4 separate regions of the Homo sapiens genome follow, and regions 2, 3 and 4 are each linked to region 1. The links come from fine-mapping of genetic effects on gene expression. A gene starts in region 1. Each other region holds a variant in brackets. All regions are shown on one strand. Distances are between the middles of the regions.

Evidence for each region. PIP is the estimated chance that this variant, and not a neighbour inherited with it, causes the effect. A credible set is the group of variants that fine-mapping cannot tell apart.
Region 2: its variant is the best candidate, but not a certain one, in a credible set for the expression of WWP2 in whole blood (Lepik 2017, PIP 0.89).
Region 3: its variant is the best candidate, but not a certain one, in a credible set for the expression of WWP2 in whole blood (TOPMed, PIP 0.53).
Region 4: its variant is the best candidate, but not a certain one, in a credible set for the expression of WWP2 in aorta (GTEx, PIP 0.84).

Annotation. Positions count from the first base shown.
Region 1 is chr16:69,759,774-69,764,922 of GRCh38, forward strand. WWP2 (WW domain containing E3 ubiquitin protein ligase 2) reads left to right here and starts at 2,559. Exons shown (of 24, transcript NM_001270454.2): 1 at 2,559-2,618. RefSeq lists an enhancer at 2,364-2,942 and silencers at 2,646-2,785, 2,806-2,965, 2,986-3,035.
Region 2 is chr16:70,042,674-70,047,822 of GRCh38, forward strand. It overlaps the pseudogene PDXDC2P-NPIPB14P and the pseudogene PDXDC2P. Among named protein-coding and RNA genes, the nearest start is that of MIR1972-2, 15 kb to the left of the region's middle. The variant G/A (reference allele first, on the strand shown) is at 2,384.
Region 3 is chr16:69,822,497-69,827,645 of GRCh38, forward strand. The region is part of intron 4 of WWP2 (WW domain containing E3 ubiquitin protein ligase 2); the gene reads left to right. Among named protein-coding and RNA genes, the nearest start is that of WWP2, 63 kb to the left of the region's middle. RefSeq lists enhancers at 1,695-1,794, 1,805-1,874. The variant G/A (reference allele first, on the strand shown) is at 2,338.
Region 4 is chr16:69,933,393-69,938,541 of GRCh38, forward strand. WWP2 (WW domain containing E3 ubiquitin protein ligase 2) reads left to right here. Exons shown (of 24, transcript NM_001270454.2): 17 at 578-737; 18 at 2,461-2,594; 19 at 2,920-3,060; 20 at 3,726-3,846; 21 at 4,156-4,260. Among named protein-coding and RNA genes, the nearest start is that of MIR140, 2.9 kb to the left of the region's middle. RefSeq lists a silencer at 270-460. The variant C/G (reference allele first, on the strand shown) is at 2,004.

The sequences.
Region 1 (5,149 bases):
CAGGCTCCTGATTAGCTGGGACTACGGGTGTGTGCCACCATGCCCAGCTAATATTTGTATTTTTTGTAGAGATGGGTTTTCACCATGTTGCCCAGTCTGATCTCGAGCCCCTGACAGTCTGATCTGCCCGCCTTGGCCTCCCAAAGTACTGGGATTACAGGTGCCAGCCACCGCACCCTGTCAGATTTTATTCTTTTAATGTGCAGTGTGTGCTCTTTGCTTGTCCCTTCTCCCCTTTGGTGAACACTTACTCAGATGCCACTAAATCTTTTCTGCAGGGTTGTTAAAAAAAAGCAACAAAAGATAAAAAATGAAATATGAAAGAAGAAAACAAACCGAAACCAACAAATGCTAGTAAGTCAAGGAAATAGTCTCTAATTTATCTAGAACAGAATTAGTAAAACTGCCATCAATGGAACTGGAGAAGTTTTAGTTATAGTAGTTTTATAAATGAGACTAATATAGGGTTTAATGTACAAAGACAGGACTGTATCTCCTTGAAAGTTAATCTCTTGGATTTGGAGTGGTACTACAAAAAGTAGAGACTAAGTGTTCAACCTATTTATTTATTTAGATACAGAGTCTCACTCTGTCGCCCAGGCTGGAGTGCAGAGGCGTTATCATGGCTCACTGCCACCTCCGCCTCCCGGGTTCAAGCAATTCTCCTGCCTCAGGTTCTGGAGTACCTGGGATTACCCGCACCCGGACCATGCCCGGCGAATCTTTTTTTTTTTTTTTTTTGTAGTTTTAGTAGAGATGGGGTTTCACCAGGTTGGCCAAGTGGGTTTCGAACTCCCGACCTCAGGTAATCCACCTGCCTCTGCCTCCCAAAGTGCTGGGATTACAGGCGTGAGCCTCCACGCCCCACCAGCCAATTTAATTTGTATGCATGATAGAATCCATCCCAATTCGAAGACCCAAAAATAACAGATTAGTACAAGTCTTTGAGGCTAATTACGTCATTAGTATTAATTTTAATCAATGGTGATTAAACTGAGCCTTCATTCAACTTGTCCAGAACATCAGTCAAGAATGTCTATTTAAAATGTTCTTGGAGGCCGGGCGCATTGGCTCACGCCTATAATCTGAGCACTTTGGGAGGCCAAGGCAGGTGGATCATCTGAGGTTAGGAGTTTGAGACCAGCCTGGCCAACATGGTGAAACCCCATCTCTATTAAAAATACAAAAATTAGCCAGGCATGGTGGTGGGTGCCTGTAGTCCCAGCTACTCAGGAGGCTGAGGAAGGAGAATTGCTTGAACCTGGGAGGCAGAGGTTGCAGTGAGCCAAGATTGAGCCACTGCACTCCTGCCTGGGCTACAAGAGTGAAACTCTGTCTCAAGCAAGCAAATAAATAAATAAATAAATAAATAAATAAAGTTATTGGGCAGGCACAGTGGCATTCGCCTGTAGTCTCAGCTACTTGGGAGGCTGAAGCAAGAGGACTGCTTGAAGCTGGGAGTTCGAGCCCAGCCAAAGCAACCTATCCAGACCCATCTCTTAAAAAAAATATTTCTCTGCCAGGTGCGGTGGTTCATGCCTGTAATCCCAGCACTTTGGGAGGCCAAGGTGGGCGGATCATTTGAAGTCAGGTGTTCGAGACCAGACTGGTCAACATGGAGGAACCCTGTCTCTACTAAAAATGCAAAAATTAGCCAGGCGTGGTGGTGCACGCCTGTAATCCCAGCTACTCGGGAGGCTGAGGCAGGAGAATTGCATGAACCGGCGAGACGGAGGTTGCAGTCAGCTGAGACTGCACCACTGCACTCCAGCCTGGGCGACAGAGCGAGGCTCCATCTCAAAAAAAAAAAAAAAAATATCATCTATCTATCCACCTACCTACCTACCTACCTACCTGGATTATAATTCATTAAGTTCTCTGTGCCCTGTAGTTGTAGATTAAGGGAATGCGATTGGATTAGTGTGGAGGGGCTTTTTATGGAGCCAAGCAGGAGTTTTTAAGCTTTTGTACTTTTGCTTCATGTCACAAGGACAGATGCCCCACAAAGGCTGAGATGTTTGTGGTCCTGGATCTTAGAACAGTGCCTGGCACATAATAGGCATAAGGTTGCCAGGAAATAGAAATACAGATACTCAATTCAATTTGATCTTCAGATAATCAAAAAATACTTTTTTTAGTATAAATATGTCCCATTCTGTATTTGGGACATACATATTACACTGTTGTTTATCTGAAATTCAAATTTAAGTGGGTGTCCTGTACTTTATCTGGCAACCCTACTAAAGGAGCTCAATTAAGTATTTGCTGACTTAACAGTCTGAAGGTCTCGTTTCACCTGTAAAATGGGGCTAGTACCTGTCCCTGCCTCTATAAGGTTGATGGGCAGAGTAGGTGGCATTCAGTGAGCCCTCAATTTATTTGATTGCCTGGGACCATCCGGTGAGCAGAAACCCTTCCACTTTCAACTACAGAGACGATAAAAAGGCCTCCTCGAGGCCAGAGGTGCCCAGGCCAGGCCTAGGTGGCCCGCACCTGCGAGCCTGGCCAGCCTCTTCCGGGTCAGGTGACCGCGCGCGGTCACGTGACCCGGCCCGAGTGCGGGCGGTGGAAGGCGGAAGTAGGAGAGGAGTTCGGCGCCGCTTCTGTGGCCACGGCAGGTAGCGAGCGCTGGCGCGGGGGGCGCGGTGGGCTGGCTGCCTGCACGGGGCGGGCCGGGGGCGGCGGGCGGCGCGGGGTGGGCCGGGGGCGGCGCGGCCCGGGCGTCGGGGGGCGGCGGCTTCCTGTGGGAGGGGCCTGGCGCGGCGGTTCCGGCCTCCGAGGAGGGGTGTCCCGGCTCCCGCCCGAGTGGGGTGGGCGCGCCGCGGCCCGCGCGGGGGTTGCTCCGAAATGGGTGCCCCGGCCGCCAAGGGTGCAGCTGGAGCGAGTCCTCCCGGAAGGGGAGAGGAGCTTAGGTTCCCAGGCATGGAGAGGAGCGATCTTTGTGGAGGGATCGGGACCAGGGGAAGGGGCGACTTGGAACTGAGCTGGAAGGGGGTGCCTGAAAATGGGTTTATGGCGTGGAGCCAGAGGGAAAAAGATGCTGCCTGGACCCCCTCTGAGAGTCTCTCCCTTCCTTCCTGTTTGGAAATGATTGTTACCCGAGACTTTGATGACGGTCCCATTCAGTTTTTAAACTTCAGGAGGGATCACAGAATCTTGATCGTCTTGCTTCCCTCGCGCCCACTTAGTCCTGCGTGGGTAGGGTTTCCACTTCTTGGGAGCCTAGCCCTTCAGCTCATTTTTCTTTGAGATTTTCCCTGAACGGGCCATCATCGAGGCTTTAAAAAACAAAAAAAGAAAATAAATTAAAAAAATAAGTGTGGGCACTTTGCCTGTAAAATGGCTTTTAGCTTACACTGTTGACCTAGCCCAGCGTTACCTCAGCAACATAGTGACTGCTGAAATCTTGGACAGAGAAGTGTCTACCTAGACTGCTTTATGACTTTTCTCTTTCTTCCGTTTAAATTATTCAGTTTCCCTTAGCTTATCTTGTGACTGCTTATCTTGACGAACTGTAACTAGGTAGGGTGCCTGAGAGGTCTGTGTTATGTTCCTTAGAACTGTGACCTGGATCATGATTTTGAGATTGAATACTTGTGTTAAAGCCTGTTCATCTTCCTGTTTCTCATGTTTACTAAAATTTGCAGAAGCAAAAGGAGTTTCATGAGTGCAGTGTAACTGGAACGAATGTTCAAACTGGACATTCACAGCAGCCAGCATCGTTTTGGGTTACAAGTAGGAAAAAGTACTTTCCTAATGTATTATGAGTTCAAGTTTTTGGAGTTATTTGACAAACATTTAAAAATTAGTTTTTGCAGCAGCGCCTATGAGTGAGGTTGGGAAGATGTATTCTCATTTCACAGGGAACAAACAGACTTACGAGAGACGACTTGATTTTTTAAAACAATTTATTGCTCTTTCTTGTTTGCTGGCCTCTTCCTGCTAGATTGCAAATCCTTCAAGGGCAGGTTTCATATTTTATTTGGCTGCTAGCCTAGTGCCTGGCATGTTGTGAGCACTTGATAAATATTTGGTGAATAAATGCATTTCTAAAAGTCACACCGGCGTAAGTGGTGACAAAGGATTTGAACCCAAGTCTTCTACTCTTTTTCTTGTCAGAGAAGCTTGTGATTATCTGTGTCATTGGTCCATATGAAAACAGGCTCGAGAGAAAGGCTTGGATTGGCTTCTCAGTCTCTTTCACTTCATGATTACTTTCCCATTTACAAAGAGCGTATACCAACATCTCACTTAACCTTCCCTTTGAAATTGGGATGGTCAGTATTGTCCCTATATCACATGAAGAGACTGAGGCTTAATGAAGTCCTTACTTTAGATTTCAGAGCTAGTAAATGAGTAGGGACTCAAGCCCAGACCCTTAATCCTTAGATCCATTCTTTTTCATTTATTGACACAATAGAAAATTTTATTTTTATTTTATTTTGAGACAGGATCTTACTCTGTTGCCCAGGCTGGAGTGCAGTGGCACAATCACGGCTCACTGTAACCTTGACCTGCCTGGGCTCGGGTGATCCTCCCATGTCTGCCTCCCAAACAGCTGGGACTACAGGTGGGTGCCACCTCGCCTGGCTAATTTTTGTAGAGACAGGGGTTTTGCTATGTTGCCCGGGCTGTTTTCAAACTCCGGGGCTCAAGCGATCCTCCCACCTCGGCCTCTCAAAGTGTTGCAATTACAGGTGTAAGTCACCATGCCCAACTGAAAGTTTTATTTTTACATAATTTTTCAGGAATAAAAAGTGTAACATTTTAAGGAAAAAGATCACACAGAAAAAGTTGTGAATGTAGAATGTGAGTAAATGAAGTTTAGAAAACGCTGTACTCTACCATAGCTTCCTCTTCCTGGGAAAACATTCTTTCATTCAGTGAATATTTATAAGTACCCACTCTGTCTTTGCCAGGCATTGTTGTAGAGTCCAGTATGGTGTACACTAGCCACATGGGGCTGCTGAGCACTGGAGCTATGCTGTGAGCATAAAATACATTCTGGATTTTGAAGACTTAGCATGAAGAAAAGTAAAATGTCTCATTGATACTTTTTATGTTATAGTAAACGATCATATAATGTATAAACATGTATGATAACATTTTGGATTTATTGGGTTAAATACAACGTAATTATAAATAGTTG
Region 2 (5,149 bases), 280 kb after region 1:
TTATAGAGTCAAATCAATATATTAAGTAAATGAAACTCTTAATAGACAGAATTAAATAGTATAAGTCTTTCCTCTCAATTTCAAAATCCTTTAATTACAAGGCACCTTTTACCCAAGACAAACACCAATTTTCAAGTCAGCCGAAGCTGTGTGTGACACTGTGAAGCCAAGAGGCACCTTTAACAGAAAGAACCCAGAGCCACTGGCTTCACAGCAGGCTGAACTCGTTGAACAGGGTCACCTCTGTCCTACTCACCTCTGACTGTCCTCCAGCATCTTCACTGCCTCCTTCAAGTTTTTTCCCATTTCAGCTAACGTGGGGTCTGCTATCTGGGGAAAAAAAAAAAAAAGAAAGAAATTTTAATAATCCTCTATTACCTCTACAACACAATTCACCCAGAAAAATTAAGTGCATAATTTCTTCTGGATTTACTGTGAAGTACATGATTTTAAAACCTGCAATAGTACAAAAGTATAACAGAAAAAGTAAAAGTCTTCCAGCCCCACTTCCTAGAGGAAGCTGCTGTTTTTATTTTTATTTTTTGAGATGGAGTCTTACTCTGTTGCCCAGACTAGAGTGCAATGGCATGACCTTGTTCACTGCAACCTCTGCCTCCTGGGTTCAAGTGATTCTCTTGCCTCAGCCTCCCAAGTAGCTGGGATTACAGGCACACACCACCATGCCCAGCTAATTTTTATATTTTTAGTAGAGACGGGGGGTTTCACCATGTTGGCCATGCTAGTCTCGAACTCTTGACCTCAAGTGATCTGGCCACCTTAGCTTCCCAAAGTGCTGGGATTGCAGGTGTGAGCCACCGTGCCTGGCCTCCTTAAGTTCCTTTTGAATTTTAGTGCCATGTGTACACCTATCTCCCATCCAAAAAGTAAACAAAATAGAATTTAAATTTTTCTGCAGAATTATAATTTTTTCACCATTCATTCTGGGAAGAACCACGTGAGGCCAAAACCAAGGACCCTACCCTTCTTCACTTGGTACCACCTTCCCACTTGACAAGTTACAAGTCCCATGGGGGTAACCACAAGGTCCCCTCAGCCTGGCCATTGTACACAGCCCCAGGGTACCGGCAACGCATGACCTACACTCCAAGGCAACTGGACAACTTGGTCTTTGGTAAGATCACTTATGATAACAAAGTGAGTCAGCTTCGCTTCAGACAAGCAATGTGGCAGTGATACAAAGACATGCTATTTTGACAAATATTATTTTTGAGACAGTCGCTCTGTTACACAGACTGGGGTACAGTGGTTTGATCGTGGCTCACTGCAGCCTTGACCTCCAGGGATCAAGTGATCCTCCCACCTCAGCCTCCTGAGTACCTGGGAATACAAGTGCTCGCCACCATGCCTTGCTAATTTTCACAATTTTTTTGTAGATACAAGGGTCTCATTATGCCGCATAGGCTGGTCTCAAACTCCTGAGCTCAAGTTATCCTTCTGCTGGGATTACAGGCTGAGCCACTGTGCCCGAACTTTTTGCAGAATTAAAACATACACATTCATTTTCCTTTCTCTATTCTTAATCTCTGTAGTTATTTTTAGGGAGAAAATTCTTGTTGACTTCAATCTCTATGTAGTATGAGTTGTGTTATAACAATAAATTATATATATTACATATAATACATATAATATCATATATAAGTTATAGCTCTTTTGTTCCCCTCTTACTCTTCTAAGTGTGCTGCTTAAAGGAAGAGCTGTGTTTACCTTTTCCTATTGCTCACTGTATCTAGCAATATCTTACAGCATGGCATACAATACGTACATATTTAAAACTGCATTGCCTCCTCAAAATTGTTTTTAAGAAATTCCACTCCATTTATCAACATAAGATTCAGAAATTGTTACATTCTAGAAGGGACCTAAGGGATCTAGTCCAGGGATTTTCCAGCTGTGTTCTCCTGAGCCTTAAGGTCCCTGGGAGGACTCTGAGAAGGAAGGGTTAGGTAAGCAGTTGGGGCTTCTAACTCCCTAGCAGATCAGCTCTGTTTTGTATAACAGGGTTTTGAGTAAAGTTTTTATTTGTAAAAAGTTTCACTGAATGATAAAGGGGATATCACCACCGATCCCACAGAAATACAAACTACCGTCACAGAATACTATAAACACCTCTATGCAAATAAACTAGAAAATCTAGAAGAAATGGATAAATTCCTCGACACATACACCCTCCCAAGACTAAACCAGAAAGAAGTTGAATCTCTGAATAGACCAATAACAGGCTCTGAAATTGTGGCAATAATTAAGAGCTTACCAACCAAAAAAAATCCGGGACCAGATGGATTCACAGCCGAATTCTACCAGAGGTAAAAGGAGGAGCTGGTACCATTCCTTCTGAAACTATTCCAATCAATAGAAAAAGAGG[G/A]AATCCTCCCTAACTCATTTTATGAGGCCAGCATTATTCTGATACCAAAGCCCGGCAGAGACACAACAAAAAAAGAGAATTTTAGACCAATATCCGTGATGAACATCGATGCAAAAATCCTCAATAAAACACTGGCAAACCGAATCCAGCAGCACATGAAAAAGCTTATCCACCATGATCAAGTGGGCTTCATCCCTGGGATGCAAGGCTGGTTCAACATACGCAAATCAATAAATGTAATCCAGCATATAAACAGAACCAACAACAAAAACCATACGATTATCTCAATAGATGCAGAAAGCCCTTTGACAAAATTCAACAACCCTTCATGCTAAAAACTCTCAATAAATTGGGTATTGATGGACCGTATCTCAAAATAATAAGAGCTATTTATGACAAACCCACAGCCAATATCATACTGAATGGGCAAAAACTGGAAGCATTCCCTTTGAAAACTGGCACAAGACAGGAATGCCCTCTCTCACCACTCCTATTCAACACAGTGTTGGAAGTTCTGGCCAGGGCAATGAGGCAGGAGAAGGAAATAAAGGGTATTCAATTAGGAAAAGAGGAAGTCAAATTGTCCCTGTTTGCAGATGACATGATTGTATATCTAGAAAACCCCATCGTCTCAGCCCAAAATCTCCTTAAACTGATAGGCAACTTCAGCAAAGTCTCAGGATACAGAATCAATGTACAAAAATCACAAGCATTCTTATACACCAATAACAGACAAACAGAGAGCCAAATCATGAGTGAACTCCCATTCACAATTGCTTCAAAGAGAATAAAATACCTAGGAATCCAACTTACAAGGAAAACTACAAACCACTGCTCAATGAAATAAAAGAGGATACAAACAAATGGAAGAACTTTCCATGCTCATGGGTAGGAAGAATCAATATCGTGAAAACGGCCACACTGCCCAAGGTAATTTATAGATTCAATGCCATCCCCATCAAGCTACCAATGGCTTTCTTCACAGAATTGGAAAAAACTACTTTAAAGTTCATATGGAACCAAAAAAGAGCCCACATTGCCAAGTCACTCCTAAGCCAGAAAAACAAAGCTGGAGGCATCACGCTACCTGGCTTCAAACTATACTACAAGGCTACAGTAACCAAAACAGCATGGTACTGGTACCAATACAGAGATATAGACCAATGGAACAGAATAGAGCCCTCAGAAATAATGCTGCATATCTACAACTATCTGATCTTTGACAAACCTGACAAAAACAAGAAATGGGGAAAGGATTCCCTATTTAATAAATGGTGCTGGGAAAACTGGCTAGCCATATGTAGAAAGCTGAAACTGGATCCCTTCCTTACATCTTATACAAAAATTAATTCAAGATGGATTAAAGACTTAAACGTTAGACCTAAAACCATAAAAACCCTAGAAGAAAACCTAGGCAATACTATTCAGGACACAGGCATGGGCAAGGACTTCATGTCTAAAACACCAAAAGCAATGGCAACAAAAGCCAAAATTGACAAATGGGATCTCATTAAACTAAAGAGCTTCTGCACAGCAAAAGAAACCACCATCAGAGTGAACAGGCAACCTACAGAATGGGAGAAAATTTTTGCAGTCTACTCACCTGACAAAGGGCTAATAGACAGAATCTACAATGAACTCAAACAAATTTACAAGAAAAAAAACAACCCCATCAAAAAGTGGGCGAAGGATATGAACAGACACTTCTCAAAAGAAGACATTTATGCAGCCAAAAGACACATGAAAAAATGCTCATCATCACTGGCCATCAGAGAATGCAAATCAAAACCACAATGAGATACCATCTCACGCCAGTTAGAATGGCAATCATTAAAAAGTCAGGAAACAACAGGTGCTGGAGAGGATGTGGAGAAATAGGAACACTTTTACACTGTTGGGACGCTAAACTAGTTCAACCATTGTGGAAGTCAGTGTGGCGATTCCTCAGGGATCTAGAACTAGAAATACCATTTGATGCAGCCATCCCATTACTGGGTATATACCCAAAGGATTATAAATCATGCCGCTATAAAGACACATGCACACGTATGTTTATTGTGGCACTATTCACAATAGCAAAGACTTGGAACCAACCCAAATGTCCATCAATGATAGACTGGATTAAGAAAATGTGGCACATATACACCATGGAATACTATGCAGCCACAAAAAATGGTGAGTTCATGTCCTTTGTAGGGACATGGATGAAGCTTGAAGCCATCATTTTCAGCAAACTGTCTCAAGGACAAAACAACAAACACCACATGTTCTCACTCATAGGTGGGAATTGAACAATGAGACTACATGGACACAGGAAGGGGAACATCATACACTGTTGCTTGTTGTGGGGTGGGGGGAGGGAGGAGGGATAGCATTAGGAGATATACCTAACGTTAAATGAAGAGTTAATGGGTGTGGCACACCAACATGGCACATGTATACATATGTAACAAACCTGCACGTTGTGCACACGTACCCTAAAACTTAAAAAGTATAATTAAAAAAAATTTTTTTTTTAAATTAAAAAAAAAAAAGTGTCATTGAAAAGAAGAAAAAAATTCTTTGGGAGGCCAAGGCAGAAGAATCACTTGAGGCCAGGAGTTTCAGATCAGCTTGGGCAACATAGTGAGAAATAAATTAGCTGGGTGTGGTGGTGCACACCTGTAGTCCTAGCTACTTGGGAGGCAGAGGTAGGAGGATCACTTGAGCCTGGGAGTTTGAGGCTACAGTAAGCTATGATTGTGTCACTGCACTCCAGCCTGGAAC
Region 3 (5,149 bases), 63 kb after region 1:
AATGCATCATGGGAGACTTTGCCTGGCCTGGGTGGGGTGTGTGTGTGTGTGTGTTTGTGTGTGTGTGTTCATGCATGTGTGTTTATCAAGGAAGGCTTCCTGGAGGAAGTGACACCTGGACACCAGAAAGAGAAAAAGGAATCGTCTAGAGGAACAAGAGAAAATCATTTTAGGTGGAGGGAACAGCATGTGGGAAGCTTTGAGGCAGGAACAAGCTGGTTGCTGTCAAGTCACACAGGAGGCCAACGGCAGGGAGGAGGCAGGTGCTAGATCAGTGCTGTCCAATAGAAACAGAATTTGAGGTGTGTGTATAATTTAGAATTTGCTACTAGCCATATTAAAAATAAGTCAAAACATAGGCCAGGCACCGTGGCTCACGCCTGCAATCCCAGCACTTTGGGAGGCTGAGGCCAGTGGATCATTTGAGGCCAGGAATTCAAGACCAGCCTGGCCAACATGACAAAGCTCCATCTTTACTAAAAGTACAAAAATTAGCCAGGCATGGTGGCACGTAATCTCAGCTACTTGGGAGGCTAAGGCAGGAGAATCACTTGAACCCAGGAGGCAGAGATTGCAGTGAGCCAAGATCGCGCCACTGCACTCCAGCCTGCGCAACAGAGCGAGACTGTGTCTCAAAAAAGAAAAAAGTAAAAACAAAAACACAGGTGAAATTAATTTTAATAATGTAGCTTATTTCCACATATCTGAAATGCTATTTTAACATGTAATCAGTATAAAGAAAAGTACTAATGAGATATTTTACATACTTTTTGGCCTCAGGTGTGTCTTTCTGACACACAGCACATCTTAATCCATACCAGCCACCTTCTAAGTATGGCTGCAGGTAGCTGTGGCCCCCATATTGGACAGTGCAGGTCTAGAGGTTGAGTCCCTGGAGAAAGACTGGGAAACTTCTCTTCTTTTATTTATTTATTTGTATTTACAAATTTTTTGATTTAAATTTTCTCTTTTTCTTGTGTTTTTTTTTTTTGAGGTGGAGCCTTGCTTTCTTGCCCAGGCTGGAGTGCAGTGGTGCGGTCTTGTTCACTGCAGCCTGTGCTCCTGGGTTCAAGCGATTCTCCTGCCTCAGCCTCCCAAGTAGCTGGGATTACAGGTGTGTACCACCACACCTAGCTAATTTTTATATTTTTAGTAGAAAAGGGGTTTTGCCATGTTGGCCCTGCTGGCCTCGAACTCCTGACCTCAAGTGATCTGCCTGCCCCAGCCTCCCAAAGTGCTGGGATTACAGGCTTGAGCCACCGTGCCCAGCCAAAAATTTTTGTTAAAACATCACCTTGTCTTCAGAAGAAACTTTTCTGCGAAATCAGGTTACCATTAGTGTAGGGTTATATTTGTACAGTTCTAGAAACTTCTTCCATTCCTCTTGAGCCTGTGGCACAGGGGCGTTGGGCCATCTTCTCCAAGGGCCTGTGCTGTTTCTCATCAGCCGTGTAGCATTCAGGCCCTAAATGAACACCTGCTGCAGGCCGGGAATGGTGGCCTTGACCTGGTGACAGGAAAATGAGATTGTTGCCTGAATGTGAGCTGTTTCCTTCCCCTTGCCAAAAACAAAACTGAAACACTTCATCTGGTGTTTGGGCCTCTGCTCCGCACCAGTCATTCGGGCGGCTTCCGCCTGACCGTCCATTCCAGCCTCCCAGGTTCTCCCAGGGGAGGTGCTGTGGCTGCCGGAATAGCCATGTTAACATCAGACCTCATTTATCTCATTGCAGTGTTTAATTTTCCCTCTTCCTTCAGACTACCAGGATTCTTGGAGTATTTTTCTTAGTGTAGGAGGCTTATTCTTTGTGGGAGAGTGGTCCGTCAAAAGGGAAGGTAATCCTGGACCAGAGTAAGAGTGTCACAGTCACATAAGTGGGCAGTTAGTGCCACTATTAGGTACAGAGTGGGACTCTGACTTCAGTGCCTGGCCTGGCCTGGGAGTGCTGTTTATTACATCCAGGACAGTAAGGCACACACTTCTCAGAAAATAATATCCCTCCCTCCCTCCCTTCCCCCCTCCCCCTCCCTCCCCCTTCCCTTTGTTCCTTCCTTTTTTCCTTCCTCTTGCCCTTTTCCTCTCTCCCTCAATTAATTAATGTTTATAACACATGTATTGCATGAATTCATTCTCTTGGAGGGAGGAATCCCCAAACCCTCTTGAGTGGATAGAGTGCATCTGTATATATTTGAAAAGATTCATAGATTACAAGTGAAAAATCAAAGGGCAGAGCTTTGGGCCTAGAATGACCTCAACTTTGCACCTGTGGCTTTTTTTTTTTTTTTTTTTTTGAGACAGAGTTTTACTCTGTCACCCAGACTGCAGTACAGTGGTGT[G/A]ATCTTGGCTCACTGCAGCCTCCACCTCCCGGGTTCAAGTGATTCTCCTGCCTCAGCCTCCCAAGGAGCTGGGATTACAGGCATGCACAACCATGCCTGACTAATTTTTGTATTTTTGGTAGAGATGGGGTTTCACTTTGTTGGCCAGGCTGGTCTCGAACTCCTGAGCTCAGGTGATCCACCCACCTCAGGCTCTGGGATTACAGGCATGAGCCACTGTGCTCGGCCTTGCATCTGTAGCTTTTATGTGTATATTTGTGCTTGTGTTTGCAATGACTTCATACAAAGTTTTTCAAAGTGGGCGATACTGGCTGGGTGCAGTGGCTCACACCTGTAATCCCAGCACTTTGGGAGGCTGAGGTGGGCGGATCACTTGAGGCTAGGAGTTCGAGACCAGCCTGACCAACATGGTGAAACCCCGTCTCTACTAAAAATACAAAATTAGCTGGGCATGGTGGCAGGCACCTGTAGTCCCAGCTACTCAGGAGGCTGAGGCAGGAGAATCCCTTGAACCCAGGAGGCAGAGGTTGCAGTGAGTTGAGATGGTGCCACTGCACTCCAGCCTGGGCAACAGAGCGAGATTCCATCTCCAAAAAAAAAAAACCCCAAAAACCAAAAAACTAAAGTGGCGATACCATGGGAAAGGCTTTGGAATGTGTGCATTTGTGGAGTAGGTGTCATAGTTTACCTTTCTGTATTTGAATTTTTTTGATGAGCACATTATTTTTTATTTTGAAAGCTAATATTATTTATTGTAAAGACGATATGATATAGCAGAAGTGGGTTTTTTTTTTTTGGTTTTTTTTTTTGGATACAGGGTTTTGTTCTGTTGCCCAGGCTGAGGTGTAGTGGTGCGATCACAGCTCACTGCAGCCTTGACCTCCTGGGCTCAAGTGATCCTCCCACCTCAGCCTCCCAAGTAGATGGGACCACAGGTGCATGCCACTACACCTGTCTAAGTTTTTACATTTTTTGTAGACACAGGATCTCCCTATGTTGCCCAGGCTGGTCTCAAACTGGGCTCAAGGGATTTTCTCACCTTGGCCTCTCCAAGTGTTGGGATTACAGACGTGAGCCACCACACCCTGCCTGGAAAATACTTTTTAAACTTTTTACTATGGAAAATTTCAAACATAAATAAAAGTAGAAGCAGCCAGGCGCGGTGGCTCATGCCTGTAATCCCAGCACTTTGGGAGGCTGAGGTGGGCAGATCACCTGAGGTCAGGAGTTTGAGACCAGCCTGGCCAACATCATGAAACCCCATCTGCACTAAAAATACAAAAATTAGCCGGGTGTGGTGGTGGGTGCCTATAATCCTAGCTACTCAGGAGGCTGAGTCAGGAGAATCGCTTGGACTGAGGAGGCAGAGCTTGCAGTGAACTGAGATCACACCACTGCACTCCAGCCTGGGTGACAAGAGTGAAACTCCGTCTCAAAAAAAAAAAAAAAGTAGACCAGGCGCAGTGGCTTATGCCTGTAATCCCAGCACTTTGGGAGGCCGAGGCAGGCAGATCACAAGGCCAGGAGTACGAGACCAGCTTGGCCAACATAGTGAAACTCTGTCTCTACTAAAAATACACACAAAAAAATTAGCCGGGCGTGATGGTGGGTGCTTGTAGTCCCAGCTACTTGGGAGGCTGAGACAGGAGAATTGGCTGAACCCAGGAGGCAGAGGTTGCAGTAAGCCGAAATAGTGCCATTGCACTCCAGGCTGGGCAACAGAGTGAGACTCCGTCTCAAAAAAAAAAAAAAAAAAAAAAGTGGAGCCGGGCACGGTGGCTAAGGCCTGTAATCCCAGCACTTTGGGAGGCCGAGGCGGGTGGATCACGAGGTCAGGAGATCGAGACCATCCTGGCTAACATGGTGAAACCCTCTCTCTAATAAAAATACAAAAAAAAAAAAAAAAATTAGCCTAACACGGTGAAACCCCGTCTCTAATAAAAATACAAAAAAAAATTAGCCGGACATGGTGGCAGGTGCCTGTAGTCCCAGCTCCTCAGGAGGCTGAGGCAGGAGAATGGTGTGAACCCGGTAGGCGGAGCTTGCAGTAAGCCGAGATCGTGCCACTGCACTCCAGCCTGGGTGACAGAGCGAGACTCCACCTCAAAAAAAAAAAAAAAAGGGGGGGGGGCGGAGAGAATAATGGACCATCTAGCACCAGTTACCCAGCTTAAATGATAACCAGCACACATCTACTTGTCCTTCATCTTTAGCTCCCATCTTTTGGGGAAGTATTTGCAAGAAAATCTCATGCCTTGTGTCATTTCACTTGTTGACACTCCTGCATACATGTCTAATGTTTAACTGAAATGGAAATTATGAAAAAAAAAAAACTACTGTGGAATTAATGGAAATTGAACAAAGAAAATCTTTGTTTCATAATCTTACTGCTCAAACACAACTTATCATTTTTCCCTGGTTCATTTATTTCTTTGCCCCTTTGTATACTTATTTTTACATGATTTTAGTAATAGGGTGCATTCTATAATGTCAGAGGTTGCAGTGAGCCAAGATCGCGCCACTGCACTCCAGCCTGGGCGACAGAGACTCCATCTCAAAAAAAATAAAAACTTAACTTTGTGGTATGAATAATTTTCCATGTTGTTGTATACGCTTTATAATCACTAATCCAAATCTTAATTGGGGCATAATAGGTCCCTCATCTGAAATTATAATTTGTAAAAAAACTCCAATGTATACAAGGGAATTTTTTTAAAAGCAGAATTGTAACCTTAAAAAATAATTTTCTAAGAGGACTCCTACATTTTGCTCTGCAAAGAACATTTAAAAGGAGGTTTGTTCTTTGGAAGGT
Region 4 (5,149 bases), 170 kb after region 1:
GGGCAAAGTGCAAGAGTGTTGCATAGCTGGTGGGCATGAGGTTTCTCATCTGAAGGCAGCATGGATTACATTGTCATGGATCGGGGTTGGAAATGTGTTGCTGTGTATTTACGTTATGTTGCCCGCCCAGGTAGAGTGGAAACAGGGTAGTTACTATTCAAACAGAACCTTTGCAGAAAAATTATTGTAATAAACATGCATCGTGCCCTTGTGCAGTGCACAGCCTAGGCAACTGAGCATGGTGACCCAGGGTACAAGGACCCCCTTTACCATTAGAAGCTCTGGATATTGTGATGTAAAGTCTTGGAACACATCACCTGGGAGCCGACAATCACACGTTTTCCCAAATATCATCCTCAAATGCAGTTGCCGCCCTGGTTCACTGTAGGTCTGAGCCTGCCCTGTTCACTGACCAGCTGTTCATATAGGTTAGCCCGGGTGCTTGTCACAGGGCTCGACTCCCTGGGACACGTGTCCCCATACTAACCTGAGACACGATGGTGAAGAGACACAGCTCCTGTGCAGATGTGCACGAAGGGACCCATTATTCTTGTCTTTTCTGTCTCTTCCCTCACAGAGAGTGGTTTTTCCTCCTGTCTCATGAGGTGCTCAACCCTATGTATTGTTTATTTGAATATGCCGGAAAGAACAATTACTGCCTGCAGATCAACCCCGCCTCCTCCATCAACCCGGACCACCTCACCTACTTTCGCTTTATAGGCAGATTCATCGCCATGGTAAGGGGGCCCCAGGGGTCTGCCTAGTTCCCTCCTCCTCTCCCTCCTCTTCCCTCTCCTGGTGAAGTGTGCCAGGGGCACCAGGGGAATCTGCTCTTTCTCTGAGACCTCCAGGAAGGGGCAGCATTGGAGGAGGCCCTGGGCCTGTTCACCAGGAGGCAGCGTGGCGTGAACGGCAGCCCCCGTGGACTGGCTCACCCTCTCGGGGCTCCACCCTTTGCCCCCATAGAGCTCGTAACCTAAAAATGCAAGAAGCTAGAGAGAGTTCTGGAGAAACCAGAGCTTTCTCAGTGGCTGCCCTGTAGGTAGTGAAGAGTTTCCATGTTGCTTTGTACAGGACTTGTCAAGAGGGAGCCCAGGGTCGCTGGGCCACAGACTTTACTGAACATTAAATATGTGCTCTGTTGAGGGCCTTGGGATGACAGGGCCAGGTGAAACCATAGCTGCCCACCTGCTGCCTGTCTCTGGGAGGTGACACTGTCACGGCATTTGGGAATGTCCCACTGAGACACTAAGCCTTCTGGAAGGGCATTTGGAATCAACACTAGTGTAGAACAAAACGTAAAGTCTGTGGCCCAGAGACCCTGGGCCCCCTCTTGACAAGTCCTATGCAAAGCAACATGGAAACTCTTCAGTACCTACAGGGCAGCCACTGAGAAAGCTCTGGTTTCTCCAGAACTATCTCCAGCTTTTTACATTTTTAGGTTACCAGCTCTATGGGGGCGAAGGGTAGAGCCCAGAGAGGGCGCGCCAGTCCATGGGCGCTGCCGTTCACGCCACGCTGCCTCCTGGTGAACAGTAGACTGGCTGGTGCAGGGTGTAGGGACATCTGTCAGAAAGTGAGCCAGTTCTGGGGAGGGGCGTCCCAGCGTCTGTATTTAACTGGAAAGAGGGACACAATGTGAATATGGAAAGGGAGGTCCTGCCACGTGCCCCGTTGAGGGTCCTGGGAGCGTGGAGAACCCGGATTGAGAAGCGGAGCCCGTGGGAGGCACAGCGCGGGAGCCACATGCATAGCTGGAGATGTTTCAATTCTCCTTTCCTTCGCTTCTTCCCCTGCCTTCCTGAGTGTCCCACCCGGCTCCCCTCTTAGGAGGACCCAAGCGCCCCATGAGCCTGTGACTAAATATGGCCGGCCCTTCCCATCGTCGAGGAGTTCTTGGCCAAGGTGCTGGGCTCTGGAAATGGGCACATTCTTCCCAGGTCTAGAGACCCGCCTGGCCCAGCAGCCAGCAGGACAGACCGGTAAAACCCTAGACTATTACT[C/G]ACCATTGGCCGCCAGCTCTCGCTGTCGGCGGTGTCTGCATTATTTTTGGCTGCCTTTGCCACCCACCCTGAGCGCCAGTGAATCAGGGCTGCCACCTGCAGCTGTTCAGAGCAAGCCTTTTCTGTGAGCGTGGGGCAGACCTTTGCTAGGCCAGGAGCCAGCCGGCCAGCGTGCGGGGCAGATGCGGGCCCGGACGTGGGTTCCCGCACCAGCTGGCTCTGCCCAGTCCTTGCGGTCTGCAGGGCAGGGTGGGAGTCCCTCTGTAGGTACAAGTCAGGATAAAGGCGTTGTTTACTCCTGAGGCCCTCCCGCTGCGTCCGAGGCAGCTGCTGCTGTAGTTCTGTCAGGGAAGGAAGGCGGGTAGCGGTAGCAGAGTTTGATACCGAGCATCTGAGAGCTGGTCTTGGCAGTGCCCAGGGAAGGCCAAACCTCTGTGCTGTGCCTCTTCCTTCCCAGGCGCTGTACCATGGAAAGTTCATCGACACGGGCTTCACCCTCCCTTTCTACAAGCGGATGCTCAATAAGAGACCAACCCTGAAAGACCTGGAGTCCATTGACCCTGAGTTCTACAACTCCATTGTCTGGATCAAGTGAGTTCCCTGCCCCCTTGCCCCACCGCGCTGATAGGAGGGACGTCTCTGGGTGGGAAGCAGGTACTGATGGCCTTTATTTTGTCTGCCAGTGTGGCCCCTGAGCTCTTTTCCAGCCTCTATAAGAGCTTGTGGAGAGGAATGTCCTCTGGGTTCCCTGGGGACAGTTCTAGAACCTTCTCCTTGAGTCAAGGAGCTGTCCCCTGTCACTGTTCAGGATTCTAGGCCACCTGTGGGCCCTTGGTGTCCCACGGGCAACAGAGCAGGATCCAGGAAAGACCCTGACACGGTAGACATCTCCCCACTTGGTCTCCTGTGCCCCCAGAGAGAACAACCTGGAAGAATGTGGCCTGGAGCTGTACTTCATCCAGGACATGGAGATACTGGGCAAGGTGACGACCCACGAGCTGAAGGAGGGCGGCGAGAGCATCCGGGTCACAGAGGAGAACAAGGAAGAGTACATCATGTGAGTCTCAGGCGCCGGGGGCTCCGCTCCAGGGGTGGCGTGGAGATCTAGTGGGTTGCAGAGAAAGATGGGCCCCCACCTGTGGCCCATCGGTCACTGTGGATGCCATTTGCATTTGCCTTGATGGTGGCTGCTGGTGGGCGGTCATGTGATGGCGCGAGCTGGGGGAACCAAAGCCGAGGTCCTTAGTTACCGACTCCCAGCTGTGCTTTTTCGCCATGTGGGAGACTTCAAGCCTGCAGCGTGGAATTTCTTTGAAGTGGCATCAAGCTGAGACATCTGCATCTTTCTCCGGGCCGAAAGGATCTCTGTGGCCTGTGTGCCTAGACCCACCGTCTCACGTGTGCCCGTTCTCCGTGCCTGTTCCTCAGGCCTCTTGCTTTAGTCTTTATCTCCACGCTTCCATACGTCTGAGGTTCAGTCGGCGCTGGGGGCAGGAGCAGGAGGAGGTGGTGGTGAGGATGATTTCAAAGACTCCGGTGTCTGCAGGTCACTGTGAGGTTTTCAGGGCCTCACTCTAGGTCCTCCAGCAGGCTGGGTCTGGGTGTGCGAAGTGGGCTCTGCTGATCTGGTGGTCCTGCGCGGTAACGGCCACGCGGCCTGGCCGGGAGCCACCCCTGAGCAGTGGGTCTCAGACTCCACCCATGGCTGCTCTTTGGTCTCAGGCTGCTGACTGACTGGCGTTTCACCCGAGGCGTGGAAGAGCAGACCAAAGCCTTCCTGGATGGCTTCAACGAGGTGGCCCCGCTGGAGTGGCTGCGCTACTTTGACGAGAAAGAGCTGGAGGTGAGTGTCTGAGGTTGCTGGGACCCTGAGCCCCTGCCTCTGGGGCGATCCTGCTCTGTGATACGCTCACTGTGTACCCACAGACACTCAGCGTAAAACTCCCACTTCGGCAGGGCAGATGGGTTTGATTTGGGACCCACCCTTCCCCAGACACTTGTTTCAAGAAAGCAGGGACTTACATTACCCATATTATTAACGCTGACACCAAAAATAGCTAGTTGAATATGTTTGGGGTAATGTCAAGTGCTAGCGAGTGGACGATGCGCGGGGAGGGACCTGCCGGGGATGCTGACTGCCGCCTCTCCCCAGCTGATGCTGTGCGGCATGCAGGAGATAGACATGAGCGACTGGCAGAAGAGCACCATCTACCGGCACTACACCAAGAACAGCAAGCAGATCCAGTGGTTCTGGCAGGTGGGTCCCGGGCCCAGGCCTTGGCAGGGACATTTGGGCCATCAACCAAAGGAAACGGGTCCTGAGGAGGCCTCACGCGCAAGGACCTTCAGCTTTGGCCCTGTCCTTGCCTCCCACACCTTGCAAAAGGAGACGATAGACCAGCCTTGGGATGAACGGGGACAGTTCCAGCTGAGTGGTGGCCAGTGGATGTGACAGGAGGTCGTCAGTGGTCAGCCTTGGGCCAGCTGGTGTGCAGGGACAGACCTGCAGGCAGACAGCAGCTGCCACTGGTTGAGAGGTCCCCTGCCAGCCAGATGGGACAGGAAGGCAGGGGCTTGGCTCCAGAAACCAGAAAGAGCTGTCATCCTATGTATAATTAATGTGTTGATTCTTTTATACGTATGGGTTTTGTTGTTGTCGTTATGAAATACAGCATACAAAAAAAAATAGCGATTACAGGTATTCTTAGTACATGTCTGTGTGCATATGTACGTATACAAATTTTTTGTGGAGGTGAAATTTGTATAACATACAATTAACTATTAATTTTTTTTTTTTCAATAGAGACAGGGTCTTGCTATGGTGCCCAGCCTGGTCCTGAACTCCTGGGCTCAAGCAGTCCTTCCATCTCACCCTCCCAAAGTGCTGGGATTACAGGCGTGAGCCACTGTGCCCAACCCATTTAAGTTTTTTAAGATACACAATTCAGTGGCTTTCCACTTTGGGTTCCTTGGCTTCCCACCCAGGCCGAGGTGGGCAGATCACTTGAGGTCAGGAGTTCAAGACCAGCCTGGCCAAAATAGTGAAACCCTCTTTCTACTAACAATATAAAAAATTAGCCAGGCATGGTGGTGGACACCTGTAATCCCAGCTACTCGGGAAGCTGATGCATGAGAATCACTTGAAC